Linked DNA regions of Homo sapiens. The protein of the gene in region 3 interacts with the protein of the main gene of each other region in a pairwise test. Each region holds a gene or a part of one and is shown on either strand. Other genes may lie near its edges.

Evidence for each region.
Region 1: the proteins of CLTRN (region 3) and UBE2J1 interact in binary tests that used the Homo sapiens proteins (3 or more experiments, as listed by UniProt).
Region 2: the proteins of CLTRN (region 3) and SMCO4 interact in binary tests that used the Homo sapiens proteins (3 or more experiments, as listed by UniProt).

What each region holds. Positions count from the first base shown.
Region 1 is NC_000006.12:89,340,298-89,350,790, reverse strand, and holds part of UBE2J1 (ubiquitin-conjugating enzyme E2 J1), read left to right. Parts: intron 1-7,034; coding exon 7,035-7,108; intron 7,109-8,335; coding exon 8,336-8,467; intron 8,468-10,493. UniProt on the Homo sapiens protein: Catalyzes the covalent attachment of ubiquitin to other proteins. Functions in the selective degradation of misfolded membrane proteins from the endoplasmic reticulum (ERAD) and is essential for cells to recover from ER stress.
Region 2 is NC_000011.10:93,538,933-93,549,588, forward strand, and holds the start of SMCO4 (single-pass membrane and coiled-coil domain-containing protein 4), read right to left. Parts: upstream 4,460-10,656; 5' UTR 4,344-4,459; intron 1-4,343.
Region 3 is NC_000023.11:15,659,996-15,671,300, forward strand, and holds the start of CLTRN (collectrin precursor), read right to left. Parts: upstream 4,811-11,305; 5' UTR 4,781-4,810; coding exon 4,723-4,780; intron 4,401-4,722; coding exon 4,342-4,400; intron 1-4,341. UniProt on the Homo sapiens protein: Plays an important role in amino acid transport by acting as binding partner of amino acid transporters SLC6A18 and SLC6A19, regulating their trafficking on the cell surface and their amino acid transporter activity.

The DNA.
Region 1 (10,493 bases), on a different chromosome or scaffold from region 3:
ATCGCTCAATTTCGATAGGTTAGACTTAATACTATGATGATAAGCTTTTAAAAATCTCCAGAATTTTGTATATTTCCAAAGTATGTGAACTATTGTCAGCTGGTTGAGCTTTGGTTGACATGCTTCTAGCTGTGTCATAAATTGCTTCCTTTTTCTGGTTTCATTTCCTCAAAGATAGTGTTGCTGCTCTAAAAAAAAAAACACAATGCTTCTTAAAAATCTATTTTTGTTAGTGTGTGAATTATTTGGAGTTCATGGAGAAGTTGAATTAGGTAAGATATGGGACTTACTGAAAATGCTGGGAGGCATTGTGAAAATACTTCCTTCCTTTGCTTTATTCTCAGTCCTGTGGTATTTTTAGAGTAATGCCTGTGTGAAGGGGAGCAACTGAAAACTCCAATTTCCTGTGTATGGCAGGGTGCACACACACACACACGTAAAATACCAACATACCAGACAAACAAAAAACAACCACACAATGTGAGGGATATAATCTTTTACTCTTTATCTGATGTGGGATTGTCTTTGATGTATGAGTGGAAAGATTAAGTGAAGACAATACAGATAGCTGGTTAAGGGCCAGTGTACTAGCATGTGGATATAGTAAATTTTTTCATTTCATAGGTGGGGAAACTTTTTGCTTTATGGTTTTTTTTTGGAATGGACTTGTGATTATGGATAGAGCTGTTGTGTAGGATCACCTCACAGTAGTTGTCTGTGGTAGTTGTCAGTAGTTGTCTATGGATCTGCTACTGTAGTAGCAGTAGTTGTCTATGGATCATGCTACTTGTCTATAATCTGTCAATAGTTGTCTATGGATCAAGCTACTTGACCCGTGTTTGGGTCTGCTCTGGCCAAGGAAGTAGGGTCTTATAGTACAAAGTGAAGAAATGTGTATAAAGCACCTCCTTTGGCAGCTTCTTCATCAGGGGGCCATTGACATGTGCAGCAGGTGGTGGGAGTATAAGAGACTGGTGCAAAAGTACCCACTGCCTCCACCAGAAGTCTAAGAGTTACCTATCCATGCCATTGGTGTCAACTGCACCTTCCCACTAATCCACTCAAGGTTTCATGTCCAACTCAGGCCCTTCTCGTAAGCTATAGATACACAGAACTTATGGTGACTCAACATCTTCATTTCCCATAGAGTGAAAAAAATCTCTGTAAGTATAAAGACAAAACTCATCAGTTTTCTTCTCCTCCCCTAAACTTGCAGTTTACCCTAGTATTTCATATCTCAGGGATAGACAGCACTCAGGCACCTATGGGAGTCATTTTTTATTTCTTGGTCGCTTCCTTGCTCCATCCCTGCCCTGAAACACACAACTCAATACACACACAGAAACACATATATCTAATCAGTCACTGTTGTCACCAGATCAATCAAAACAAAAACTGATTACCCCCAAATTGAAAAATTTTCAGTAGCTTTCTGATAGCTGTCAATAAAGTTCAAAGTAAACTGCTTAGCTTGGCCTACAGGGCTGCTCATGATTGACCCTGCCCTTCCTCACCAGCCTCACTGTCCACCACTCTTATGCTCTTCCTCATTTTCTTTTTTTTTGAGGCAGGGTCTCCCAGCCTGGAGTGCAGTGGTGCCATCACAGCTCACTACAGCCTCAACCTCCTGGGCTGAAGTGATTCTTCCACCTCTGCCTCCCGAGTAGCAGGGACCACAGGTGTGTGCCACCACACCCAGCTAATTTGTGTATTTTTTGTAGAGACGAGGGTTTCACCATGTTGCCCAGGCTGGTCTCAAACGCCTGAGCTCAAGTGTTCCCTCCACCTTGGCTTCCCAAAGTGGTGAGATTACAGGTGAGAGCCACTGCACCAGGCCTGCGTTTTTACCTATCCATTTTGCCTGAATGACTCTCTAGCTGGAGTAGCTTTTCTCACTTAGGTGCTTTGGTTCCTGTTGGAACCTCTGCTTAGAATGCCTTCCTTTAAATCCATCTGAAATTCCTATAGTTCTTCAAGCTTTAAGGTTCAGCCTTGTCTAGCTCCCCTAGGCAGACTAAAGTAGTTCCTATATATACTTGTACATATATACTTGGTCAATATTACCACTTGGTTGTAATTATTTTCATGTCTTTCTCTACTGACTGTTACGGAAGACAAGAAGCAGGTCTTGGTCATTGTTTTATCTCCAACACTCAGACATTCTTTAAATGTTTGTTGAACTGATACATTTGCAGGGTCCTCCTGGGCAGAAACATCACTCTGTAGGCATTTGCTTAAGTACCTTCATTATGGGAGCAGGAAGAGGCAGTTAGGGAGCATGCCTTCCTTAATATACCTGTCTCCTGCATTTCACTCATGCTTTGGGAATTGATAATATCAAGATAATTGCTTTTGAAGAGGAATCCATATATGGGAAGCAGTGGCCTGTAGAAGATCCCTTTATTTTTAGCTGTATACAAACCCCAATGTGAGGCTAGTGAGCTAGCCAAGGTGTGTGAAGAATGCTAATGCCTAGGCCCACAGCACCTAGAGCATGGCTCCAGAGTGTCCATGTGGCCTCTATAAGAAAGAAGAACAAGAGCAGGCATCCAGGTGCCACCCCTTCCTTTCCTGGCACATCTTATCTCACCACAGTGAAAGGATTCCATGGAAAAACCTTTCCAAGAGATAGGAGAGGAGCTGGAATAAAAGTTTCCTCTCTAGCCATGTAGAAGCAAGAGATGGAGTATCAGGAGGGGCAGACTATGCTGTAGCCCGGTTGCCAGGCAGCACTGTGAACCATGACTGTTTCCTAACAGTGGTATTTCTCCTCAGGAGCCAGGGAGCCATATCATAAGGCCAGCGAAATCTGCTGAGGCATGGTTTTGAGTTAGGAAGAATCATTGAGAAGGCCTTATATACCAGTCCATTTTCAACCTTAATGACTCAGGGACTGGGCAGGAAGGAGGGGTGAAAAGGAAAGGAGAATTTTGTGGAGAAATTATTGACTCTTATTTGACAGATGTAAACATCAGATCAAGTGACTTGTTCAAGGACTTAGAGCTACAAAATGTCAGAGTCAGAATTTTAATGCAGCTCTAAATCGAGTCCCTGTTTCTTTTCACTGAAGCATTCATAATATATGTTATTTTTGCAAAAAAAATAGCTTATGGAAACAAGAGACTAATCTCACCTTTTGGCTACATGACCTTAGCTCTTACATGGTATGTGCCTGAGTGACTTATGAACTAATTAGCTATTTAGCTGTTGAACCAATGATTGTTCCTTTACAGGATTGGTACAGATACATTCTTATAACAATTCTGACCCTTTATACATCTCTCATAATATCCAGGTACAAGTTTTGAGTGTTTATTTTCTTCTCTCCTGTTGAACTGAACTGAGTAGGGAAGAGGCAGAGAAAATGCGATAAGGGTATAGAATGACATAAAATCTGACTTCAGCTTAATCATTATTGAGTTCAGCCAGTTGACGAGGAATGAAGGAAAAACAATCTTTTTGGCATCTCCAAACTAATTAACTTCATAACAGCTTCCATAATTGCATTTCTATCTAATAATATTAACTTAAAGGAATGATATGTTTATGTGGCTTTAAAGCAGGGTTTTCCATCTTTGTTCTATGGGTCCCTTCAGGAGTGAAATGGAAGGACAGGGAGTAGATAGTCCGCAGGCCCTTCCACTGGCCTCTGCAACCAAAGCGGCTCTGTGGTTTTTGTTTCACCTGTTGGGGTTCTCATTAAGCTTTCTTTGAATGAAGGATTTTGTTTTATTAAATAAGTTTAATTGTTTTATTAAGTAAGTTTAAAAACCATTGCCTTTAATCGGATTCTGAGAGCTATGTTGAGAGAAGATAGTAAAATTTAATTCAACTAATATTTGAGTACTTACCATGTGCTAAGCCCTGAGGAGACTGTACTGCTACAGCTACACTGTCATTACTATTGCTTAGCAGGAAAAACAGATATTAAACAAGTAATTACAAGTGAGATGAACTTCATAAGAGGAAAAATACAGTGTTATGATGGCATAGAGCAAGGAGACTCAACCTGGTCTCTAGGGCAGTGGTTTCTAAACCTAACCAGAGTAATTCAGAGAGCATTCCTAGTCTCTACCCCTCCCTAGGACGCCTCAGAGATTTTGATCTGCCCAGATTGAAATCTCCAAGCACTGTAGGGGGTGGGGGGCAGGGGGCAACCAGGGAAGGTGTCATAGAGACATTCCTGAGAAGTTACTTAAAGGTCTAGGGTAGCCAGACTAGACGGTGAGGCGGAGGATGGGGCCGGAGCAGCCTGGGCCCTGAGGAAAGCTGTATAGAAAGGCTGAGAGTGGAGGGGAGGTAAAGTGTGTTCAGGGAATTGACCAAAGCCCAGTCTCTAGACTTGGAGGGAGAGGGTGTCTCAGTATGTACATATTTCTAATATAGCATTTATCATTCTGTTTTGTATTGACTGCACCTCCCAGCCGTCAGTCTTTAGTGACCAAAGCCATATTTTGTTTACGCATGAAGCTGTAGCATCTAGTACCTAGTAGGAACTCAAGAAATAGTTGATGATCCAGTGAACAAAGTCTCTGCATATAGGGGCTTAGTTCAGAGTAAGAAATGGAAAAGAATATTAATAATTGTGAAGTAGGATAGTAACAACTTTTTTTTGGCCAGGCATGCTGATTCCCGCCTGTAATCTCAGCACTTTGGAAGGCTGAGGTAGGAGGATTGCCCGAGACCAGCCTGGGCAAGACAGGGGGACCCCAGCTCTACAAAAAATTTAAAAATTAGCCAGGCATGGTGGTGCATGCCTGTGGTCTCAGCTATTGGGGAGGCCAAGGTGGGAGGACTGCATGAGCTTGGGAGGTTGAGGCTTCAGTGAGTGAGCTGTGTTCGTACCACTGCCCTCCGGCCTGGAGGGCTTTTTTTTTTTTTTTTAGACGTAGTTTCGCTCTTGTTGCCCAGGCTGGAGTGCAACAGCACGATCTCAGCTCACTGCAGCCTCCACTTCCTGGGTTTAAGCGATTCTCCTGCCTCAGCCTCCCTAGTAGCTGGGATTATAGGCATGTGCCATCACACCAGGCTAATTTTGTATTTTTAGTAGAGATGGGGTTTCACTATGCTGGTCAGGCTGGTTTCAAACTCCTGACCTCAGGTGATCCACCTGCCTCGGCCTCCCAAAGTGCTGGGATTACAGGCCTAAGCCACCGTGCCTGGTTTTGTTTGTTTGTTTGTTTGTTTTATTGAGATAGTCTCTCTCTGAAGCCCAGGCTGGAGTGCAATGGCACGACCTCAGCTCACTGCAACCTCCACCTCCTGGGTGCAAGCGATTCTCCTGCCTCAGCCTCCCGAGTAGCTGGGATTACAGGCGTCCGCCACCATGCCTGGCTAATTTTTGTATTTTTAGTAGAGACAGGGTTTCACCATGTTGGCCAGGCTAGTCTCGAACTCTTGACCTCAGGTGATCCACTCGCCTCGGTCTCCCAAAGTGCTAGGATTACAGGCATGAGCCACCACGCCTGGCCTCAAATGCAATTTTATGCAAAAGTCTTGATACATACCAAACCATTGTGGTTATATACATGTAGGGGTTCCTTCTCAGTTAATCTCTCTCCCCATAACATTCCAACCTGTGCCTCTACACATTTTACTTTTATTATTACCTCTTCCTATTCATATCTACCTGGGGAGTTTCTACTGTTATTTCTTTCACATTCAGTACCTGACTCCTTTTCTCTTCCATTTGCTCTAAAGTTAGATGCCCAGCCTGTCCTCCCAGCATCTGGTGCATACCTCTCTTTTGAGCTACATCAGTGGTTGCAAACCCAGTTTTGAGAAGCCTTTTCCCTAACTCAGCCATCCCACTGCAGTATCCTGACATGTTTTAGCACCAAAAGCTTGAAATGAGAGGGGTTGGGATCCAGAGTGCATATCAAAGGATTGAATTTTGAGAGCCAATAGAAGACAGAGGGTGCAGATACAGATAGGATTGTAGATTGTGATAGGCATCTGAGCAGCTCCTGCTAGCAGTCATTCATCAGGGAGATAAAAAGCTGGGTGCCATTAACTGAAAGAGAGGAGAAATTAGACTAGGTGGGAAATAATCTTGGAGTGCTAGGTGGAAAGAGTAGGCTGGAAGGCCTACTAGAGAAATGTGGGGACATTAGGTGGCATTGTATCCCAGTAGAGGTTGTTGGTAATGACTTGTAATGGCATTACTGCACCATCCTCTCTGACTTTTTTTCCTCCTTTCAGTGATGCTCAGCTGTTTGGGTATAGACAGCAAATAAGATGGTTGGGTTGGGTCAGGCACAGTTGGATTTTATTAAGGGAGTGTACAAGAGGGACTCCTAAGAGCCAAGGGTGTGGATAAAGAGGAAAATGAATATAAGTATAGGAGGGGTGAAGAAAGTTGTGGGGTCAGTGGACTGGAGGTTTTAGTGAAGCTGAAGGATCATTTCAAGAAGGAATTTCATCGGGGCTTTGGAGAGTCAGTGAATTCAGGGGACAGTCCATTCATTTAATGCAAGATAGTGGATGGAAAGTCCCAAGAGTTGGAGGATATAGAGGTGTTTCCTGTTCACCGAGCATGAGATCCAGAGAATACATTTTTTGTTAATAAAGACATTTTAACAGGTAGAGCCAAATTGCCTGTGTTGGAATCCCATCTCTGTCATTTACTAGCTGTGTGACTATATAATCTCTCCGTGTCTCGGCTTCTTCATCTGGAAAATGGGGATAAAAATAATACCTATCTAGTAATGTTGTATTAAGGGTTAAATGAGTTATTAATGTCTGTAAAAGCACTTCAATAAATACCACCATATAGGAAGTATATATAAGTACTTATTAAATAAAAATAGTGTCTTCACTATATATTTAATATATAACTCTTTTAAAGTGTTAATGCCTAGCAACTGTTTCCTTCCTCTCCCCCTCTATTTATTCCCATAATCTTATAATTAAACCTTTGCCATATGCTCATTTGCACTAGTTCTCTACACATTTTTTCATTAGGCTCGTAAGACTGTGCTAATCATTCAGAAAAGTATATTTTAAATATCTCTATTTTATGAATTTTATTTTAGCTGTTAAACGTTTAATGAAAGAAGCGGCAGAATTGAAAGATCCAACAGATCATTACCATGCGCAGCCTTTAGAGGTTAGTTTCTATCTCCATGTTCTTCATATGGATTTTAATATTTAAAACAAATTTTTTAAAATTGCTTTTCATTGCTTTGAGTCATTACAGATGTGTGTGATGTAGTTTGACGTTTTATTCACCATATTTCATGAATATTTCATTAGCCATTCCAAATCACTTTAGAAGAAACGGATTTTGTGGTCTTTATAAAATGGGTCTCAGATGCTAAGTTGAGGTTAGATCTTTTTTTTTTTTTTTTTTTTTTTGAGGCGGAGTCTCACTGTGTTGCCCAGGCTGGAGTGCAGTGATGTGATCTCGGCTCACTGCAACCTCTACCTCCCAGGTTCAAGCAATTCTCCTGCCTCAGCCTCCTGAATAGCTGGGATTACAGGCCCCCACCACCACGCCCGGCTAATTTTTGTATTTTTAGTAGAGACAGGGTTTCACCATGTTGGTCAGGCTGGTCTCAAACTCCTGACCTCGTGATCCACCCGCCTTGGCCTCCCAAAGTGCTGGGATTACAGGCGTGAGCCACTGCACCCGGCCGAGGTTAGATCTTGAGTCTGAGGGAGGGGAGGTGGAAAGAACCCCAGATACTTTACAGTTTGGAAGCCTTTTGATGGGTCTCCGTAGCTACTCAAGGCTTTTTGTATAAACATCTCGGCCTCTCTCAGTCTTCTCATTTGTAAAAGGAGGGTATTTAAATATACCCAGGCAGGTTTTCATGGTAACAGTGGGAATAAAAATATCATAACTTAAGTGCAAGTATTTTGTAAACTGAAAAGTACATGGTAACTGTAAGATGACATTAAATACATTAGTATTACCATTTTATAAATAAGCTCTTAGGCATCTATAAGGGATAATTTTTAAAGATTTGTTAAAATAACCCAAACATAGTAATTTTTTGATTATATAATTATCATAATTTGCTATTCTTTCAAGGATTAATTTCCAATTTAAACCTGTAAGTTACTTATGAATATATAACAACACTCAGAAATTTTTAATGTGTTTATTATAAAATATTTTAGCTCAATGGAACATGAAAGCTAGATTAAATAGCTTTTACTTATAAATTTAATTTATCACTTATAGTCTCGAGACATCTCATGCATTAGAAACTATACTAGCAATAATATAAAGCATTTAATTTTTCTTGCTTGGTAATATTTCTAATATTCAGATAAAATGATCAAACTTTTCAATATTATTAATTCCTTGTGGATTATTGTTTTTGTTCAGGATAACCTTTTTGAATGGCACTTCACGGTTAGAGGGCCCCCAGACTCCGATTTTGATGGAGGAGTTTATCACGGGCGGATAGTACTGCCACCAGAGTATCCCATGAAACCACCAAGCATTATTCTCCTAACGGTAAGAATTTTGGATTTTTAGAGTGCTTGTGGCTTCACTCTTCCTGGTAGCTGCAAAATATAGTAAGCAAATCATTTTCATTAAGAAATAATAGAACAGTATAATTTTGCTTTTGGGGTCCAGGCCCTGGGACTACAATTTTTTTCCTCCAAAATAATTCCTAGGAAGCTGATGCATCTGAGAAGTAAAAATGATACAACTGAATGCATAAATGTCATATCATGGTTGTTAGGATTCAATGAATTAATATATGCCAAGTGCTGGGCATACACATCTGGCACTTCATAAGTACTCACTAAAGGGTAGCTAATGTTATTGTACCTTGTAATCATATTGTCTCCTTTAACTTCCCACCTTTCTTACACTCTCTTCCTCAGTTTTCTCATCTTTACAATGAGAATAATGATACCTACCTCATTGAGTTTATGTGGGATGAAAAGTATCAAGATCTTATTGTATAGCTCTTAGAATAGAGCCTGACACAGAATACTCAATAAGTGTTAGCATTATTATTACTGTTTATATCTCAGATTTTCTCTCTTTCTCTCCAAATTTACACATCTTTTCTTCATGTGAAGGAAAACTTTTTTTTTTTTTTAAGAGACACGGTCTTTCTCTGTTGCCCAGGCTGGAGCGCAGTAGCACGATCATAGCTCACTGTAGCCTCAAACTCCTGGGCTCAAGCTATCCTCCCACCTCAGCCTCCTGAGTAGCTGGGACTATAGGCACATGCCACTGCACCCAGCTAATTAAAAAGTTTTTTGGTAGAGACATGGTCTCATTGGTCTTGAACTACTGGCCTCAGGCAGTCCTCCCATCTCAGCCTCCCAAAGTGCTAGGATGACAGGTGTCACCATCATACCTGGCCAAGGAAAACTATTGATCTAATTCCTCTTTAATTGTTAAGCTTTTCTTCTCTCATTTCCTTTAACTATGTTTAATTATCCCCTAACCTTGAAAAAAGCAAAAACAAACACAAAAACCATTCCCTGTATCTGTTATCACTTTAAGCTGTGCCTATTTTTCTCTTTGGTAACCTCCAAGGCATCCTTTCCGTAGTTTGGCCTGCTGCAGTCCACCTTCCACACATAGTGCCCTGTTGAAACATGAAACTACACCAATCTCAGAGACCAGTTTGAGAAATCTCACTGCTTCTCCTCAGCCTTCATCCTGTTCTCAGTTAAACATCTTACCCACACGGAGTAGCAAATGGTGAAACAACAGGTATTCATCAATAAATACCAAATTAGGCCGGGCGCGGTGGCTCACGCCTGTAATCCCAGCACTTTGGGAGGCCGAGGCGGGTGGATCATGAGGTCAGGAGATCGAGACCATCCTGGCTAACAAGGTGAAACCCCGTCTCTACTAAAAATACAAAAAATTAGCCGGGCGCGGTGGCGGGCGCCTGTAGTCCCAGCTACTCGGGAGGCTGAGGCAGGAGAATGGCGTGAACCCGGGAAGCGGAGCTTGCAGTGAGCCGAGATTGCGCCACTGCAGTCCGCAGTCCAGCCTGGGCGACAGAGCGAGACTCCATCTCAAAAAAAAAAAACATAAATAAATAAATAAATAAATAAATAAATACCAAATTAATGCTGCTTTTACCTCTATTTTGTATAACAGAGAGAACATTTGTTTAAGAGCCAATAGGCCTAGATTCTGACTGGTGCTCTTTCCATTACACTATGGGTGGGTTACACAATGTCTTTAAAATTGTTTTCTCATCAGTCAAAATGAATGTTGTGTTTGGTAATTGTAATCACACCATAAAGTACCTGACATATAGAAGCTGCTTAATAAGTATTAGCTGATATAGAGAACTGCTAATGCTGGCAGTAGAGTTGGAGCAGGGTCCTGGAGACACTCTACTGTGTCAGGAGTCATTTTATTTAGTTGCTAGATCATGGGGAGAGCTAAGTGGTCTTCGGGGAGGGAGGGGCTGGTGCATGGGGAGACTGGTGGTGGTGGAGGACAGTAGTTAGCAGCAGCTCTTTACCAACAAATACAGGTATATTTCAATAGTTAGCCA
Region 2 (10,656 bases), on a different chromosome or scaffold from region 3:
ACCCTCTCTGCCTACAGGACTAAGTCCCAACCCTGGCACAGCATGCAAGGCCCCTGCCTGCCTTTCCAGCTGGAAGCATGGGCTTTGGAGTCCTACAGATCATTGCAGTGACACTTAGATAAACCACTTGCTGGCTATGTGAACACACATGTGTTTCTGCACCCATTTCCACATCTGTGTGTTGGGAATAGCATGATCAGCCTCCCAGAGCTACTGTGAGGACCGAATCCAAGTTCTAAAGAGCCTAGATCTCACCAACCTAGCTCCAGGGTCCTCTCTCTTTCCCATCTTGCTATACCAGCTCTTCATAATCAATGAGAATTGACTCAAGGGTAAAAAAAAAAAAATACATGCAAGATCTAAAAATGAAGGGTCATAAATTTAAAAATTAGGCCACCACAATGTGAAAGAAACCAAAATTAACTCATTATCAAAATAATGTAGGAGGACGGAAGGAACAGGAAGAGAAGGAAAACAGTACATTTAGGAAGAAATGCTTTTAAAATATAAGTCTCTATGATGTTTTGAGCCTCATTTGCTCCAAAGATTTAGGAAGATGACATTTCAAAAGCTCACAAAGACGACACTTCTACTTTTTAAAAACTATTTCCTAATTATTATCTTCAGAGAACTAAGAAGTACTTTCACAGACTGAATGTTAATAAAATTCTCAGAGGAAATTCTGGCATCAGTCACAACAAACACCCTCTTGGAATTTAATTTCCTTTCAGCATACAATTTACTATGGAAACTCATTTGTGATGCCACCACAACCAGTCAAAATCTGCCTGGAGCACAAAAACTTCAGAGTCCCAAAAGAGGGCCTTAAAGGACTAGATGGAAATTGGTCCCATATTAAGCCAAATCCTGCATCTAACAGAAATTTCCCCCACACCAAACTAGCTTTGACCGTCAGCCAGCCCACTCCTCTCTCTAGCTGCCCTATACTATAGGCTCTTCCAGGGCCCCCTTCCAGCTAGAACCCCCTGAATTCTGTATCTTTTCCCTGTCCAACAAAATTAATTTAAAAAAAAAAAAAAGGAGGAAGGCCACAAAATGGGCAAAGGGAAACCAGCTACATCCATTTTCAACTTTCTATCAAAGACCTGTCCTTTCTGGCTTACGATTTTTTCAATTCCCTTGGACAAGACAATCACAGGCCCTGGAATATTCATTGCGCGTGCTGGGGCTTAGGGTGGGAAGGCAAAAAGGCTAGAAGAATCATTGATAAGTACAAAAAGTACTTTAAGCCTTTTCCCCCTGAGGACAACTGCTGAAAGACTTACTCAATCCCATTGACCCAAGTACCTGTGTGCAAGGGAAAGGAGTGGATGCCAATCTTTACTCAGCACCCACTGCAATTAGTGGGTACATTTCTTGAATATAAGACAGACAGTATTATCCTGATTTTACACATGTGGAAACCAGGCTCAGAGAGGTCAGGCAGCAGGTTCAGTATTTACACCCAGGCCTGCCAGACTCCCAAGACGCTTGAACTTAACCACTTCACCACACTGCTTCCAGAGTCTACAAGTGTTTATGTTAAAATGTGCTGGGTTAGGGAGCCCGTTAAGAGTTTACTTGTTGCTCTTCACATACAGTATCTCATTTAACTAGCACAACCCTGTAGGATAGCTGAGAATTCCTTTTCCACTGTTAACAAAATGGTACATGGATTGAAAGATCATCAGTAACTTATGCACGACAGCTGTACCAGAGTCGTGCCATCTCTTGGCTTTGTTTTCTCTCCTGTAAAATGATGCTCACTCCTACCTCACAATGCCTGCTCAATGGCAGGGGCTCAAATGGTGACGATTATGATTTTTATCAATACTTCTCAATTAAAGTAAAATTTATACACACACAAACACTAGATATTTTAAAGACTCAACCTAATTAATCAAGCCTTTACTTGTTGGAGAAGATATCATTTTTAACACTACCTCATCTGGTCTGAAAAGGAAAGTAGTTTAAAAAATATTTGGAAAAAATTGTTTAATAATAAAATACCACTACCTCAAACTCAGAGAGAACCACTAACTGCAGCTTCCAAAAAGCTGACAAAAAAGGATTACTGAAAATGATGTGGTCAAACCCAATATGGATTTTGAAAGCTACTAATGGACAAGAACAGGAACATTCAGTTATGACAAAATACACACACAAAAAAAATTCCTCTTCTTCCAGCACCATGGCTTGATCATTAATGTGTGGTGTGACCCTGGCCAAGTCACTTCAATGCTGTGATGGCCCTCAGCACCCAAAATGTCAAGGCCAGCTTATGACCAGGAAGCTCTAGTGAGAAGTTGCCCAGGGGGTCTAGGGGACAGGAGCGGGGTGGAGGGGACACAGATGATTGCCTGGAGCAATTTTTAATGTGCTGCCTCTAACTCACTGCTTGCCTTTTACTACACTCATCTGAAAAGAAATGAGAAGTCTGGGCATGCCAGAGGCAAGAGGAACCAGCTCACCACTTCTCAAGCCAGAATGGAAAAGATGGCAGAAGCATAGTTGTACAAGGACCCCAGCATCAGTCAGACAGAAGGAAACCTATAATATTATGCAATGAGAGACCCTGAGGATGTTCTTCAGACAAACCCCAGCAGGACCAATCCAACTCCAAGCTTGAGCGTCCACTCCAAGCTTGAAGATTAAACAATAAGAAAAAATTCGGGTCCACAGGTGAAATACACACTTTCTAAGCACAATGAGCAACTTTATAGTAGATAGCTGGACAACCAAGTACACTAACTGCAAGCATAAGAACAGTATTCATGTTGTAAATCGAGTACCAACTACTATTAGTTTTTTGTTGTTTTGCTTTTTGCAATATTTCTTCTCATATTTTATTTTAAATCTAAGCTAATTTCTTTATAAGAACAGGCTAAGGCTTATTTTCTGTGGCTGATCCAGCCTTACAAGAAAAAAGATTTCACTGTGTCCCTCAGAAACCTACTCCTGTCTACATCACACTGTCGAGCTCTCTCTTTATACCCCATGTGACAGATAAGAAAACAGAAGTCCAGAGAGAGCAAGTGACTCATCCAAGGTCAAACTTCTTGCTAACACATCTAGGACGAGAATAAGGGCTCAAGAAGCCCACTATGGGTCTCTTGCCGTATCACTGCTGCAAATGACCAGGCATACTGGTGTCTTGAATACAAAGTTTATTTGTAAAGGGGAAAAAAAAAAAGCCAACATGAGTCATCTGCATTGTCAACGGGCTCCACACAGGTTGTTCTAATAAAGCATCCAGCACCTCCAGAACCACTTGTTTCTGAAAGCACCAACCTACGCAGACACTAGCAGGCCATGTCTTCCACCCTTGCCACCCTCGAGGCTGTGAGCAGATGCGCTGTTGGGCTCTGGGGATCTAGAGGTGTCACTTAAAGAGCAAGGGAGCCTGGAGCTTGGCAGTACTGACTGGATGAGTGGATGGGTGGGTGTATGAGGACATGGGAGTGTTTTCTGACAGCTCCCGGAGATAGTTATGATATCATGCAGCCTAATCCCACTCATCTTGGAACACCCCAAACATCTCATCCGCTCAGCTGTCCCTCCTCAACTTCCTCAGGGCAAAAGCACTGCAGTCTGAGGTGAATCTGGCCGCTGGGGAGGGGCGGTAGTCGGCCCCAGCAGCAGAGGAAGCAACGCTCAGCTCCCTCCTCCACCCACCCCGTACAGGAACTCCCCACTGGGTCTTCAGATGCCAGAGGCGTACCCAGCTCGGAGCCTGCCCCGGGTCTCAGGGTCGGTCCCGAAAGAACGGGGGAGGAGGAAGGCTCTATCCCGCCCCCGCCTCACCTCTACTCCCCGACCCCCAGGCGCCGACCCTTCTCACCCGCAAGGTCCGCCGCCGGACTCTTGTCCACTCCCAGAGACCCTGAGCGCACCCCTTTCTCGGCGTCCTCAAAGGACCCGCGTTTCCCACCTTCCCATACGGGGCCCTCCCGGCCGCCCCGGCCCAAGCCCTTTGCACTGCGTCCCCCGGCCCCTGAGTCCGCCCCGCACCCGCACTTCCCGCCCGGCCCCGCGGGCTCGCGGTCCGCCCCAACTTTTCCCAGCCCCCGCCCCGCAGCAACCGGGATGCAGCGTCTCGAGCCGCGACGGGCAGGCGAGCTCGAGTCCCTCGGGCCCCCAACCCCGCCCGCACGAGTTGCGCTCGGGACCCGCCGGGCGCCCAGGCCTGGGTCAGCAGCACTGCGCGGAGGCGGAGCCGGCGTGGCGGGAACCGTACTGTCCCGGCGCCGCACCCCCGCCCGGTGCCCGGTGCCCCGTGCCCCGCGCCCGCCCGCCGGCTCGCCCGCCCCGCCGCCGCCGCCGCCGCGCCGCTCCCAGCCCACCTGCCCGCGGGCGCCGCCGCCGCCGCCGCCACCACTGCCGGGAATACGTGGCAGTGGCCGCCGCCGCTTGCGCTCCCCGCCTCGCCTCTCCTCTCGGCGCCCGCGCGGGCGACTCTGGCGCGCCAGACCGCAGCGCCAGGCGCCCTCTGCCGCCGGGAAGCCGAATCCTCCCGTCCTAACCCTAACTCGCTGGCTGCCCCCGCCCGGGCCTCGGCTCCCGCCCCCTCTTCCCCGTTCCCGGCTCAGACTGTCGCTTCCGAGCGACCTGGGTTCTCGCCCGGCCTGCTGCTGCCGCTGCCTCCAGGAAGTTCGCCCTGACCACCTCTGCAGGCTCAGCGCGCTTCCTCCGGCTCCCGCGCAGCGGGTGCTTAAGTCACCCCCTTGTTGATATATTTCCTGCTTCTTTGAACGCCTCGCCCGTGAGATAGCAGAATCGGAAAGGGGATAGTTGGAGGCAAACGCCATGTCTGTTGTGTTCACCATTCTCTCCTCCAGGGCAAGGTTAGCGCCCTGTCTGGAATACTGAAGTGCGCAATAAATACTTGTGAAGAGAGCAAACGAGTAGATGAATGAGTTGAGACTTTTACCGCTGTCTACCCAAGTAGGCTTTGAAACCTCAAGCGGACAGAGATCCTGACCTGGATTTGTTTTTTGTAACTTACACGTGCATATGTGTGCGCAGCTCAGCATAAATAAATGAGATTCACAATTCCCCACCTCGGACCAGCGCCAAATCCGCAAGAGGCCCACGGCTAAATGTTATTCAGGGCTTTTGGTCAAACACGTTTAGGTTTGAGATCTACCTCTTAAAAGCTGGGCAATCGCGGGAAAGCTCATCTCCCTGGCCCACAGTGAACACGTCTATAAATTAAGAATAATAAAACCTACTTCACAGAGTTGTGAGAATTAATTGAGATGGTGCACTATAAAGTTCTTTACGCAGCCCCGATGTGTGCGGTGGTATGTAAATGGTAGTTATTGTTGTATTACTACTGATGCAGTAGGTGATTTTAAAAACTATCTTCGAAATGTAAAATATTGACTACCTTTTCACCTTAAAACCTTTATATGTGTGGTATTGTCACCTGCTCAGCAAGGCCAGCCCGGGGAGCAAGGCCACTCCTGTAACCTCTTCCCCTCCACCGGTAAAAATATAACAAGTCTTGGGGTTTTTTTGTTCTGTTTTGAAGAATTGTGGAACCCACTCTTCTGCAGGTTTTCCACCTGGATTTCTGTGGCCAATCTCTTAATTAACAAGTTTTTATTTTAGGGATGTCAAAGACAGGGAGCCCTTTGAAAGCACCTGCAGTCTACTGGCTCTTCCTGTTTTCTTCCTGACCCTCTCTCAAACAACTTAAGGCTTTTTTTTTCATTTTTACAGGAAGTGTCCTTCCTGCTGCGTACAAAAGGCAGCAATGCAGTAGAGTGGGATCAGAGGGGATTGGGCTGCATACACCTTGGGCTTTCTGCACCTCAGTCCCCTCAACGGTAAACTGTGGAGAATAAGACCTTGTCACATTGGGAGATCATTCATGATCCGGTCTGTGAAGGAAATAAGGAAATACCTGAAACACAAAGATATTTAATAAAAGGCAACTATTGATCAGTTTATTTAGCATGTATTTAAGGAGCATCTTTTTAGTGTTCTATGCGCTGAAAGAATGAGGGGAACACGCGTGTGTGAGGTAAGTTTCCTACCTTCAAAGGAGTTTGAGCTGTAGCTCCACACTAGGGCAGAGGGATTGGGAGCATATGGGATGCAGCTAAATATGAAATTAGCAAGCCTCAAGGTTTAAATTGGGGCAGTGGTACTGCCGTGTGAATTGCTTTAATTCATTATCATTGTAAATGCCATTTTCCTCTAAATATTATGTACACAACTTCCCAAGGCCACTGCTAAAAATTAATGAATAATTTTATGAGGCAAGCAGAGCCACTGATGTAGGACTCAGTCCCTTAATAAGGTGACTCCACATGCTCCCTTATAGTAGTAATAACATAGATATTGTGTCTGTGAAAGTGCCATCCTTGGCTGGGCGTGGTGGCTTACCCCTGTAATCCCTGCACTTTGGGAGGCCGAGGTGGGTGGATCACCTGAGGTCAGGAGTTCGGGATCAACCTGGCCAACACGATGAACCCCGTCTCTACTGAAAATACAAAAACTAGCTGGGCGTGGTGGCAGGCACCTATAATCCCAGCTACTTGGGAGGCCTGAGGCAGGAGAATCACCTGAACCCAGAAGGCGGAGGTTGTAGTGAGCTGAGATCATGCCACTGCACTCCAGCCTGGGCAACAAGAGTGAAACTCTGTCTCAAAAAAAAAAAAAAAAAAAAAGAGAGAGAGAGAGAAAAGAAAAAGAAAGTGTCATCCTTTATAGGTTAGAGTTGTGTATCTTGCAATGCAAGTCTCAGAGGAAAAGTTTACACATTTTACACTAATGGCTTCTAATGAATCACCCCTACTGAGTTGTCCTTCTGTAGCTCCCTCCCACGTTGACCCTGGAGTTGGCCTTGTGACTTCCTTTAGCTACTGGGACATGAACAAATATGACACAAGCAGGGGCTTTCGATGTGCACTTGTGCCTTGCTCCTTGCTTTCTTGAAATGCTATCCTGAGACTGCCATGAAGAAACCTGGTCCAACTCCTTGAAGAGGAAAGACCCTGAGAAGAGAAAGCCTTGCTGTCCCAGCTATGCAGCCCACCAGCTCTCAGCCACATGAGTGAGCTCCAGGGAAAGCCAGCCAAAAATAGTCCAGCCAACCCAGGAATTGTGAGAAATAAAATGGTGGTTGTTTCAAATCACTAAGTGTTAGGGTGGTTTGTTATACAGTAATAGATAACTGACACACAGATCACTCACAGGCACTCCTGCAGTTACAAGTTCTAGATGAAATTCACCCAAGAATCAGTACTCTTGCTAGCGTTTTCTGTTATGAAGCATTCAGTTGAAGTCACTAAATCTAAGCTTAGCAGAGCATCACACTTCATGTAAATACCCTCTTTGAAAGTTCTTCATTGAATTGGTTACTGAGCCTAGTACTGTTTAAAATCCTTTGGCAGTCAACATAACAATGGGCTGGCAAAATCAGCTTGTAAGCTACCAAAAGCTTTAAACGTTAGAACTCCCTGGAACATCAACAGCAGGTATCATAGAGGTTAGGTGTGTTTATCTCTCCCACTTGATTGTAAGCTCCTTAATGACAATTACATTTATTGGCATGGTTTTATCATAGATCACGAAACATCAGAGATGGAGTTAGAGATCATCTAACCCACCACCTCATTTTACAGATGAGAAAACTGGGGCTAAGAGAAATCATCAGAGCCTTACAAATATCCAAGGTCCTGGAGCTGGCTCAGAGCAGAACTGGGATGACCAATTCACAGTTCTTTACGCTGTTAGTTGAACTCTTCTGTTTTTCCTTTGTGACATTTTTGCTATTTAAAATATTCTTCCCATGCTCAAAATATGTCTGTAACTTTCCTATGTGCTGGTGATAAAATCTAAACGATTATACATGGCCCCATGAGGTCTGGTGCAGCTTGCCCCTACAGAGATATTGGTACTGTTCTGCCCCTCACTCAGCACACTTTGCCCAACTGGCTTTCTTTCTGTTCCCCAAACCAGCAAGCTCTTCTCTTCTTCACAGAAAGCCCCTTCCACATGCTGTTCCTTCCACTGACGTGCTCTTTCCCAAACTCTTCACTTTGCTAAATCCCGCTTTCCAGAACCCATTAGAGTTCTGTGGTACATTATTTGGGAAATAATGTAAACAAAAAAATTTGGTGCACATAGAGGTAGCTCTCAGTCTCTTCAGCCAAGTTTTGGAAAGCTCAAAGACCAAACAGCTCAGGAATCTTATGGAGATTTGATTCCTAACAGACACCTTGTTGAGGCTCAACCAGTGGAACAAGCCACTCTGGTTTTTCTGTTTTTGCATCACTCCACTCAAGATTCCAAACCCTAGAAGAACGTCAGCCTTGGTTAGCTTGGCCACATGCCTACCCTCAGCCAGAGAAGAACAGGACACCTTGAATGAAAGCCTCCAAACATAATCATCAGGGCATTGTTACCAAAGAAGGGAAAGTTGATCAAGGATAACAAAACCAGTGAATGTCCACTACATAATCTCTCGGGCCTTGCCTTAAATGTCGTCTTCTCAGAGAAGCTTTTCTTAACCACCCCATCTGTTGCACGCTTTCATGACACTCCTTGTTTTTTTCACTGTTCTCATCATATTTTTATAGTTACATATTCTCATGTGTTTGTGTCTCTCGAATTCTCCCTCCACGAGAAAAGGGACTGCGTTTGCTTGCCCACTACTATACCTTCAATACCTAGCATGGAGCCTGGTGCATACAGGAACTCAATAAATATGTATTAAATCAATCAATAAATGAGCAAACAAATGAATGAATAATATAAGCCTTGTGAGTCTTCTGACTTAATCCATGTGATATTAACTTTGTAGGAAGAAGGAGAAAAGACAAAGAGAATATAATGAGTGTAGGCTGTGGAAGATTCTCTCTGCTGGGTCCCTTTGTGATGCTGTGGGGAGGACAAAGACTCGTGTGCAGGATAAATGAAGAAACACAACCTTGTGCATCAGAGATAAGCCATGTGTTGTGCTATGCTGTACTGTCCTTGAGGGATAAATTATGCAAGTAATGAAGTAAGAGGGGGAGGCCTAGAATGGTGGTCTGCATGTCTCAGAATGTTTGCAGAAGTAGGAACCCTCAAAACTGCTGCCTGACTGCAGCTGCCAGGAGCTGAGGTCAGGAATGTATGTTCATAAACCTACTCCCTTGGCCCCTGTTCATGCCTGGCTGTGCATTCTCTGTAGCAGAAGTTCCAGAGTTATCTGCCGATGGCTGCAAATCCACAGACAGGTTTTTCACAACTCAGAGGTAAAATGAGAGTAATCAGAGCAATGTAAAGCTAAATGTATGCAATTCTTGTATCAATGATTATTATATTTGTAATCATTTGGATGTGGGTTTTTTGTTTTGGTCATTTTTTGGCAAAATAAAAAGTTGACAGCCTCAGTTTCCATTCCCACTCCCAAAATGTTTTTGTAATGGTTTTGGTCTATGAAATCTGAAAGCCTCAGAAATTCTCACTTTATAATCTCAGAGACCTGGACAATCCCTGCAAAGGCTTCAGACCCATCAGAAAATCAACTGTTGTTGTTTTGTTGTTTCTCATGTTTTAATCATGTAGCCTGTTTCCTTTTCTGCCTCATACCTACTTGGCAGTCATTTAACTCCAGTGGTTAAAACATGGGGTTAAGGGGACTTCACTGCCAGAATCACATCTGTGGCTGTGGGTCAGGAGGGAGCTGGGCCTTGGTTCTGTCCTGTCCACAAGGAAGACCTGGACTTGAGGTCTGGTTGTTACCAGTGGAGGGTCCAGGTTCTTGGCATTTCGAACATTTGAACAAAGAACTGGAGAAAACACACAAACAAAGCAAGGAAAGAGTGAAGCAACAAAAGCAGAAATTTATTGAAAATGAAACTCTACAGGGTGGGAACAGCCTCAAGCAGGTGGCTCAAGGGCCCTGGGTACAGAATTTTCTGGGGCTTAAATACCCTCTAGAGGTTTCCCACTGGTTACTTGGTGTATACCCTGCATAAATAAAGAGGCTGAAGTGAAGTTGCAAAGTTATTTATTTGGTGTACACTCTATGCGTATGAAGAGGTTATTTCCTGTCATAGCTGAAGTAGAGTTACAGAGTTATTTACTTGGTCGTAGAAAGTTGGGGTTTTTCCGTTTGATTTGCTTCTAGGAAGTCCTTAGTTTTCCTGCCCTGAGACTCTATTCCCCTGCCTTATGGTCAGTGGCCATGAGTGTGTGTGTACACTCACATGCATGTGTGTGTACTTATGGCAGGGAGAGTCCTTGGGTGTCCCCAACACTCTTCCACCGTAGGGGAGCTACTTAACCCTAAGAGGAGATATTGTTCTTAATCCCTGTTTTACAAAGAAGGAAAATAAGACTTAGAACGTTTAAGCAATTCACCCCAAGCCTGGTTAAATACAAAGTTCAAATACTTAATTAACCTTAACCTCTTTGGTCATAGTTCAGGTGCTTGATTGGTGTTACCTGAAGTTAAATCTGATATGAATTCCCAGAAGCCAACATTATGGAAAGACTTTTCTAGAACTAGGAAAGAGGTAAAAAAAATTTTTTTGAGTCAGGGTCTCACTCTGTTGCCCAGGCTGGAGTGCAGTGGCACAATCACATCTCACTGCAGCTTCAACCTCCTGGGCTCAAACGATCCTCCTGCCTCAGCCTCCCCAGTAGCTTGGACCA
Region 3 (11,305 bases):
TGTTTAAGGACCACCAAGGAGGGTAGCAACTAAAGAGAAGCAGGAAGGGAGAAAGTAGCAAAAGCTGAGCGGAAGAAGTTGGTGAGGGTGGGGGGTTGGTATATCACAAGGACATTGTCAGGATTGGGGTTTCACTCTGGGATGGGGAAACATATTTTACCGTTACTGCCTTTCTCCTCTTTGGTGGCAGGGAGGATAGTAAGTAAAAATAAATGACTCCTAAATAACAACAACAAAAAATGTATTACTCAGTTACCTTCTCTGGGTAAGGTTTATGACTGTGCTGTACTTTTTCCTTTCTCCTAAATATTTTCATAGCATATTCTTTTTTTGGAAGGGAGGAGGGATGGGGTCTTGCTGTGCTGTCCAGGCTGGTCTCAAATGTGTGGCCTTAAGTGATCCTCCTGCCTTGGCCTCTGTAACATAGAACCTTAAACTTTCTTCAGTTGCTTCTTCCACTTCACCATTTTCTCCTTCAGTCCTACCTTATGTAACTCTGCTGTAAGATGTTACCATAAAGAACAGAAAAGGGGGACAGGAGTGGTGGCTCAAGCCTGTAACACTTTGGGAGGCCAAGATGGGTGGATCACTTGAGCCCAGGAGCTCAAGACTAGCCTGGGCAACATAGTGAAACCCCATCTCTACCAAAAAAAAAAAAAAAATCAGCCAGGCGTGGTGGCATGCACCTGTAGTCCCAGCTACCCAGGAGGCTAAGGCAGGAAGATTGCTTGAACCTGGGAAGTGGAGGTTGCCGTGAGCCAAGATCATGCCACTGCACTCCAGCCTGGATGACAGAGTGAGACCCTGTCTCCAACAACAACAACAACAACAACAACAACAACAACAACAAAAGAATGGAAATGGAAAAATCACTTTTCTCATATGCAAATGTTAAATACTGCATTTTAATGTCAACTTTAGATCTTATTTGAAGTGCTCCTTCAATGTTTTGATGTGAACTTTTCATTTGATATTATACTATGAAAGTTTAAAAGTAACTGATTGGTGGCATAGCTCTTTGTTTTTGATAATGCATTTTTTTCCAAAATTAATTTTATTCAGAATAAGAGTAGCTATGATCTAACCTAATAATAAATGAATAAAACATGAAGAAGAAATGGGTCTGATTAAAAATGGTGCAGAAACACTATTAAGACAGGGAAGGCTTATTAACAGAATGCAGACACAAGGAATAAGCCTGCTCAAGAACAAATGAGAATAATAAGCTCAGTGCAGAAAATGAAAATAAAGATGTTAGCCAGCTCTCCCTGGGACATGAATTTCAGTTGCTTTTCAGATCTTGGGGACAACTTGACCTGATCTCCTGTCCTTCCATTTGTTCATCTCAAAAACAAGAGCATAAGCTGGCTGGGTAGGAGTCCAATTTTGGTCACAGAACAAAGGTCCAAGCTACTTAGATCAGAACAGAACTGATGCAGTTCTAGATTGGGTTGGGTATCCTGCCAGTGGAACCAACTTATCTTGGGCAAGTGTGAAAAGGATTGAAAGCTTGTGCATTGGACGTAGTGTATTTCTCCCAGGGCATTCAAACACTTCAAAGAGAGAGCCTCCGCTTATAAAAGGAATTGAGCACATATATTAATGAGAAAATGTACAACTTAAGAGAGGATAAGGTAAGAGTTACTAAAGCTAAACATTTGTATACTTTATGATCCATTAATCTACTCCAGGGTAAATACCCCCAAAAAAGAAGGCATATGAAAAATACACATATAAGAATGTCCATAGCAGCTTAACTACCTGTTGTGCGTATACTTGACACATAATAGGTGCTCAATGTGAAATTGAACACATCTTTATATGCCACGTGTGGCTTCACAGACCAAATGGTACAAATTAATTGCATATATTTATCTATCAGTTTAGATTCCTTGGTTCCTCATTTCAATAACATGTGCCAGGACCTTAAATGCCCCAGCTCACCTTGCTTTTTGCACACATCTAAGAACACTCAAACCATGGCTAACCCCACATTTTAGGTAAGTAACTGGTATAACTAGAGACAATTACAGAACAGGGTTAGTTGGTTTAACTCTAAATTCATGATGACCTACCCCCAAATTGCCTGGGAATCCCTAAGGTTTCACCATCAGTTCTCTTTCTCATGGGTCACATAACTATTTCAAACCTCTCTCTAGAGAGAGAACTGATGGTCAATGCTTTTTTTTTTTAACCATTTTTCCCAATGGTTTCCCTCAAACCTCACTCTCACTAAATGGTTTTGCTTCATAATTTATAGATACATCTCATCAATTTCAACTCTCCCAACCTCCTGACATCAAGATACAACACTTCCTCCATAGACACGTCTTAGCCGCCTCCTCTCCTGAAGTGCCAGACAGAACTATGCCTATCAGAGGCCATTTCCGTCACTTATATTAGGAATGCTTCTCCTCTGCCCTTCTCAGATCTAAACAATATCAGTTCCCCTCCATTCTGTGTATTTAGCTCTGACCGGAGTCTGTTCATTGTCTTTTAACCAAGCTCAAGACTTTCTCATTAAAGCCATAGCAAAGAGCTGTTGTTTTGCAACAGCAAAAACAAATCATTTTACTCAGTCTTCCTTTCTTCTACCTACTGCTATCTCTTTCCTGCCCTTCACAGCCAAAATTCTCCCAGGAGTTGTCCACACATCTGTTTCAACATGTTCACCACTCATTTATTTTTTAACTCCCCACTATCTGTCTTCCAGCTCCTCCACCCCACGAAAAGAGCTCTTTCTAAAATCACCATTGACCTCCATATTGTCCAACACAATGAACATTTTTCAGTCGCCTTCTGGCTTGGCCTCTCAACGGCATTTGATGCTCTTGAACCCTCCCTACATCTCAAAATGAAACTCCCTAACACAGCCCACATATTCCTTGGCCTGCCTGCTCCTCTCTCTTTAAGCTCATCACCTGCCATGTTCCTCCTCACTGCCCCAATTCCAGATATTTCTGCCCTCTTTCTAATCTTTACTCTCACCAAGATCCTTCCTGTGATAAGCCTTTGCACATGCTGTTCCCTCTGCCTTTCCTTCTTTCATTTCCTGTAACACTTCAACTCATGCTTCAGACATCACAGTAAGTGCCAGGTATTGTGGGCCTTGACAAAGCCGAAGTGCCCTTGTACTTCTTCCCGTAATACTTGTCAAGATTGCACATTTGCATTTGGTTTACTGAATATTTAATAGATGACCAATTCTACTACTACTATAAGCTCCACAAGGGTAAGGACAAGCCTTAATCACCATTACATCCCAGCATTCAGCATCGTACCTGCTATTAGAGGATACTGGGATGGCCAACCCTGCACACTAGTAGAGACAGTGTATTCTGCACTCAGACTGCCTGGGCTCAAATCTTACTTCTGCCACTTGCTGACTTGAAATATTGAGCATGTTACTTAATTTCTTTGAACCTCAGTTTTCTCATCCATTCAGTGGGAATACTAATACCTGTACTACTATCTTCCTCAAAGCATTGTTGTGAGGGCTAAATGATTTGATAGGAGTAAGGTGCTTAGAAGAGCCCCAGCTAGAAAGTAAGATAAGTTCTCAATAAATGCTGGCTGTTATAACAATCATTACTCATTGAGTCAATAATAAAATACCAAATTGATGAACTGGCCTGCAAACAGAATACCTCTAAGTTTCTTTAGCACTCTTTTTTCTGTTTCTATGCCTAAGGCATCTTAACGTCACCTTCTATTGGGGAAAAAATTTTGCAGACCACACTAGGAAACTGAAACTAGAATTAGACAATACTGTCTTTTTAATTCAATGATCTTTACCATTCCTATAGCCACATGGGCCCTATGACTATTTTTTAAACTTCTATTTCATAAGCATATATTTCATATGTTACTTTGATAATTGAGAATAATTGAAGAAACTTCAGGTTCAAATTGGAAATTTTTTGTGCTATGAAAGACTTTATGTGGGTAGAACTATCCCTTATTTTCAATGGTAGAAAATCGAGGCTAACAAAATTCAAATGACCACAACGGTGAGGAGTAGACCCAGTCCAGACCTGAACGACTGACTCAGGCCACTTGGCTTCACTATCCCGAGTTGAGATGCTGGTTTTTTAAGTTGTTTTGTGTGGCACAAAACTTCACATGTTGCCTAGCATACACTACTGATTAAATACTTTAGGCAAACCTACTTTATTAAAAATTCATATTATTCTATAATCTATCTTTAAGAAATCAGATTTGAGGTCTTTAGAAATAATTTATTCAAGATTAAGGTAACTATGCAGACAGGCCCATTATTAGAGAAAGCACAGTGTTATTAGCAAACAAAATTTAAAAAGAACACTCAGGTGCTCCACTTACTGCTTTATCTCCCAGAGCTGTTCTGATACTAAGTCTCACTTTAAAAGCATTTTCTGCACCTGCCAGAAAAGAAAAAAGAAAGAGCAGTATATGATGATTAGGATCTGCCAAAACAGAGTCTGAAAAATCCTAATATGTAATGCAACTCAAACTAATGGAACAAAGAACTACAATTAAACAGCCCCAAATACTCCTGGAAGTTTAACCTAAATCATCTTAGATGGTTTAATATTTTCTTTCAAACTCATTAAACACTCACTGCCCCAACTTTCAAGCCACAACATGTCTGCAGATTTAGAAAAATAAAGAGTTCTTTCAGTCGATGACTTGTCAAACATGTAGAAAACTGTTCATCTATTTTTAAATTTCAAGGCTACATACCTGGTTGACAGAGTTCAGCATGAATGGCAGTCACCAGAAAAAAGAGCAGCCACAACATTCTTTCAGGGTGGAAAACACAAGGCAAAGTGAGAAAAAAAAAATCCACGCTGCACTTAAATCTGCCTTAGCCATTCTGTGACCCGGATTAGAATATCAGAGAAACAAGCGAGCCACCACCAAAAAGGTTTAATGATTAACACCCATCATTTGGGTTAATACTTCCATAAAAACAGCCCATCTCCTGTCAGTTATTTATGAAAACCTGTTTGGAAAACAGATTAGTTGTTTTCCCTACTCTGACTCTACCTCAAAAGAATGTCTTCTTTGCTGACTCAAAGTTGGAATCCTCCCCGACCCCTTCTGCGATTCTCTGGTTACGTGTATGATGGGAAGAATTGAGTCCTGTCTAGAGGTTTCCTTGACATGCACTTCCCACCTTTTCGAGGCTGAGATACCTGGTTCTTAGATAGGCTATCTTCATTCAGGAAACAAACGTGACTCCCTTCTCTCTGGTAAACAAAGGGTGCCCTCCGTGAAGGGCCTCACCTGACTCTCACCACAGCGGGTGAACATCCCAGGAGAGCTTCGGAGCTTCCTCTTACCTACTTAAGGTTAGAGGGTGGGAGGAGAGAGAGGATCGAAAAACTACCTATCGAATACTATGCTTATTATCTGGGTGACAAAATAATCTGTACACCAAACTCCAGTGACACACAATTTACCTATACAACAAAACTGCACAGGTGCCTGCACATTCACACATAGGGAATGATTGTGTTCAGCCCTGAGGTCTGGCACTTGAATTAAATCAAAGTTAATGATACAGAGCAGCACTGTCCAAGGGACATTCTGTGGCGATGGGAATGTTCTGTGTCTGTACTATCCAATATGGCAGCTACTACAGGTAGGAGGCCATTGAGCACTGGAAATGGAGCTAGTGTAGCTGAGAAATGGAATTTTTGTTTAATTTAATTTAAGTAGGCACATGTGGCTACTGACTACATTGGTCAGTACAGCAATACAACAGTAATTAAAAGTTACCCACTCTGAAGTACCTTCACTGGGTTATTTCTCTGATCCTCAGACACTTCACAATTGTTATCATCATCTCATACGGGAGGGAACTGAGGCTCCAGCGTTGAAGTCATTGGCAGCAATGGGATGAGTGGGATGGGTGTCACTTTACCAGCTAGGTTGACTTACACTTGAACCCTGTCTCCACCACACCCAACTGCTCTGTGTCTCTGGTCACCATTGGTCAAAATTGGAATTGATCAAATACCACAGTCTCACTGATAAGTGGGAGCTAAACATTGAGTACACATGGACACAAAGAAGGGAACAACAGACACAGGTACCTACTTGAGGATAGTGGGTGGGAGGAGGGAGAGGATCGAAAAACTACCTATCGAATACTATGCTTATTATCTGGGTGACAAAATAATCTGTACACCAAACTCCAGTGACATACAATTTACTTATATAACAAACCTGCACATCCACCCCTAAACCTAAAATAAAAGTTTTAAAAAACCCTGAAGTTGCAACAAAGCCTCAGAGATGCTCTGAGAATTAAGATAATGCGTGTAAAAGAATCTTTCCCCGGTGGGCATTCCACAGATGCCAATCAACGCCCCGCCCAGAGGTTGATGTCAGGACTTTCCTCTCTACCATGCTGCCTCTTCATAAATTCAGTCCCCAAATTCCACCCCATTCCTCAAAAGTCATGAATGGCAGAATTAGATTGGGTGACTCTGGTGTTAAATAGAAACATTGGATTTTCAAAGCAACAACGAGGAAAATATCAACAATGAGACTTCTGCAGCACTTTGAGAAACACATCATTTCTCCCTCCTTGCGAGGGTGGTATTTTATTGTAAAGGACCCACATCCATCAGCTAAATCCAACTGAGAAAGCTTTTTCTCATCTCCTTCACCTTGGTTGCAAGGACACGGAGTCAGGAAAAGCTGTACTAAAAGGAGAGGGAGCCACAACTTAGTCCAGCCATCCTAGCAATGTCACTGTATTAGGTGCAGTGGAAATTTCCAGAAGGAAGAGCTCACCTAGCTAACATCTGAAAAAAATAAAGCCAGACTAGATGAAGTCATCTTGGGAAATGTTAAACTAGATAAAGTCATCATGGGAAGGAAAAGTCAATACACATAGAGATTGTAACAAAGCATTTTACTTACATCAAGGAAGAAAGCTATGCTAAGAACATAGAAATCTGCTTCAGCGGCTGGGCACAGTGCCTCACACCTGTAATCCCAGCACTTTCGGAGGCCGAGGCAGGTGGATCATGAGGTCAGGAGTTCAAGACCAGCCTGGCCAAGATGGTGAAACCCCATCTCTACTAAAAGTACAAATAATTAGCCGGGCGTGGTGGCAGGTGCCTGTAGTCCCAGCTACTCGGGAGGCTGAGGCAGGAGAATTGCTTGAACCCGGGAGGCGGAGCTTGCAGTGAGCCGAGATCGTGCCACTGCACTCCAGCCGGGGCAACAGAGCGAGACTCCATCTCAAAAATAAATAAATAAATAAATAAATAAATAAATAAGAAATCTGCTTCAGCTTTCCTTTAGCCTTACACTTCATAAAAGTATCAAGTGGCTTTCTTTGGCTTTTACTTAGTCATTGATGTAACTCGGGTTGAAGACAATAGAACACTGAGTCTTAGTGTAAGTCATTCATTTGAGAAGACAATCTCTTTTGAATGATGGTTTCTCAATGTTTGTTGTATCATCTTTTCAAAAAGAGCAATAGAAATTCTTTTTAGAAAATACAAAGCAGCACAAGGAGAAAAGTAAAAATCACCTGTAATTCCATCAGCGTCAACGAATGACCAATTGTCAATGTTTTCTAAATATTTGGAACATATCTTTCTGCCTTGTGCTTTCTTTTTTGTGTAAATACATGTACATTTCTTCTTAAAAACAAAACTGGGGTCATGCTATTATGCAGCTTTGTCATCTTTGTTGAACTTAACTGTGTTTTGTTGTTGTTTGTTGTTTTTTTTTAATAGAGACAGGATCTTGCTCTGATGCCCAGGCTGGAGTGCAGTGGCACCATCTTAGCTCAGTGCAGCCTCAACCTCCTGGGCTCAAGCAACCCTCCTGCCTCAGCTCCCAGAGTAGAAACACAGAATTCTTCTTCAGGTTCCTTTAGTCTTGCATTTCTTAAAAGTGACAAATTTCTTCATAAGCTTTTAGTCATCTATGTAACTAGAATTGAAGACAGTAAAATATTGAGTTTCAGTCAGTGTAAGCCATTCATCTGAAAAGGGAAGACAATCTCTTATTTCATTATGATTTCTCAATATTTGTGTTCTCATTTTTAAAATGATTGAAAAAAGCAATAGAAATTCTGTATAGACAATATAGAGAAGCAAAAAAAAGTAGAAAACATCCATAATACTACCAGAATGGATGACCAATGCTAATATATTTTCATAGTTAGAATGCGCCTTCCTTAGCCTTGGATCTCTTTATATGTTCTTGTAGGATGTTGTTTTTTCTCACTGCAGTGGCACTATCAGAACAGAGTAATACAATGATGGGAATAAGACGCACCCTTGTCTTCTTCTTTACTCTAATAGGAATGCCACTACTGCACGGAATCTGGCAAGTGGCTTTAAAAATGATGTGTCATGTGATACGAGCATTATATTTGTAATTACAAAAAATTATTTTCCTCAGTAATTGGTGTTGCATTTTATCAACTGCTTTTCACTATTAAAATTTTTACCATTTGGTGTATTACATTAATACATTTTTCACATTGATTCAATTCTTAGATAAAACATTTTTTTAATTTATTTTTAGTATGCTGCTGGAATCAATTCCTGGTTTTTCCCCTATGATTTTTAAACCTATTTTCTTAAAAGAATATCAGGTAGGTTCCTTTTCAAGTGCTGATTCTTGAAGCGTTTTTTTTCCTAGCCTTTACCATCTTGAAAATGATACAGAAAGATTTCTAACATTGTCTATGTTTAGAAATACATATAATGTACCAGAAATAAAGAGTTCACAGATGAAGAATCTGGACCATGTGCATTTTAGAGGAAGAGTTCTTCAAAATTTTTCATTCCTTACATTATCATTTATTTCAGGTTTTATACCTCTTTCTGAATCCATTTTGGCTGTTTACAATTTCCAAGAAAATATTCTGTTAAGATTTTCTAGTATCCTCATGGACTTTATAGAGTATTTCCCATAAAATATCTACTTTTGTTGTTATGTTCTCTTTATATTTTCTAATACGTGTATTAATTTTCTCATTTTGATTATATTATCTTTGTTGTTTAATCAAAGAAGAAGATCTTGGACATAATTTGCAATTCTTTCTGTTTTTTGATTCATAAATCTTATTTATATTGGTTACATACTGTAACAAATTCATTGTTAAATAGTTTGATGGAGATCTCAGTAAAATAAATGGAAAACAGAACTAGATACTAGGGTTCTTGCCTCTCAGCATATTATATTTTCCTATACTTTTCAAAGTCTTGCACAAATTTAGTGCTTGTCTTGATGTACAAGTTTTAAGTAGTAAGTTTCCAGAGCCTTCATATCTGTATAAATTGCTTCATAAAATGCTCATTTCAGCAATTTCACATATGGGAGCTTCATAACTTATTAGTAACCATGGTAATGATGACAAATAAAGCAGTTCAATCATTCTGAATATGTTACTATTTACTTCCAAACGTTCAGAGTTTAGAGCATGTAGATTTAAAAGTTCAGATTACTGTTGCCATGAGCCACACAAAAGGGCACTGAGTCTCCTGAGATGGGAAAACGAAATTGATTTCTCCGTGTTTTTTATACTCCACAACACTCTTGAAAAGCACTTTCTGGGCACATAACTATGGATCTACTGCTCTGGGGTAAACAGAATATGAGATCACATGAAAAGAAAACACATGTGTCGTTCTTTTGATTCATGCAAGATCCCTTAAGTTCACTAGATTCGTATAAATACGTGGGCGTATGTAGGCTCCATTCACCTCCAATAAAGCAAGAGGTGGAGATGACCAATGTTTCTTTTAAAATTGACCCTGGTTATTTTGTTTCATTATCAAAAACAGAAATTTAGTAAATATATAGCTCCTAAAATTAGTAAACTGTAAAACCATCTCAAATGTGACATTATTCTGTATATTTTTATTGGATTTTCAGAAATGTTATCTGGCTGTGACACATTAAAAGAAATCAATTAAAACTTTTAATAATTGAACATAGAAACTTTGTATAAGATTTTAAAACTTCACACTTTTTGCTGCTGGGCATGGTGGCTCATGCCTGTAATCCCAGCACTTTGGGAGGGCGAGGCAAGCAGATTGCTTGAGTCCAAGAGTTCAAGACAGGCCTGGACAACATGGCGAAACCCCCTCTCTACAAAAAGTACAAAAATTAGCCAGGCTTGGTGGCATGCACCTGTGGTCCCAGCAACTTGGAAGGCTGAGGCAGGAGGATCACCTGAGCCCAGGGAGGTTGAGGCTGCAGTGAGCCATGATTGTGCCACCACACTCCAGTCTGTGTGACAGAGCGAGACTCTGTCTCAAAAAATAAAAAAAACAAAAACCAAAAACAAAACACACACACACACACACACACACACACACACACACACACACAAACCCCTTTGGAAGTTTTAATATCTTAATTAAATGGCTCTACTCAATGATTTCCTAAATGTTGTAGAATTTTAATAAATGACATCCTTCCTTGTTTAAATTGTAATGAAATGGATATACTATATATAATAAACAATATCAAGATGTTTGTATTATTAATAATTTATACAATGTTTTCAGTATAATTAGGCAACAAAAATAATTTTATTCTCTTTAAATTGTCAGTGTTAAGATACATGGAGAGACAAAGTATTTTTGTCTATTGTGTGTAAGTTCTATTTTAACTCAGTGGTTTTCAATTGGGGGTGATTTTGTGCTCCAGAGACACTTGGCAACGTCTGGTGACATTTTTAGTCATCATGAATGGCAGATGAGAGGATTCTACTGGCATCTAGTGGGTAGAGGCCAGGGATGCTGCAAAACACCCCCACAAACTTTAAAAATGTCATTTAGGTAACTCTTTTCTTCTTGTAGTTGAGTTAATGGAAATAACCCACACAAGGAAGAACAGAAGAAAAAAGGGAGACAAGTGTGTGTGTGTGTGTGTGTGTGTGTGTGTGTGTGTGTGTGTGTGTGTGTGTGTGTGTGGTTTCTCTAAGGCTAAGAATGTAAAAATATATACATTGCAATGCATTTCATGGTACTTAATTTCCAGTCACAAGCTTATTAGAACTTCAGTTTATGATTCAAATTAGTCAACTCAGTTTTCTTAAACTATCATATTCATGGGCTACGAGAAATGCAAAAATGAACCAAATATAGTCTCTGCCCTTCAGGAACTTACAATTTTGTAGGACACAAAAGTAAATCACGATGGCAATAGATGCACATACAATTGTGAACAAAATGCTATAGGAACACTGGAGAAAAAGAGGATAAAAAGTTACTGGATTTGACAAGTCAATTATAAAACTGTTAACAAAAGAAAAATAGAAGAAAGGTTTCTCAAT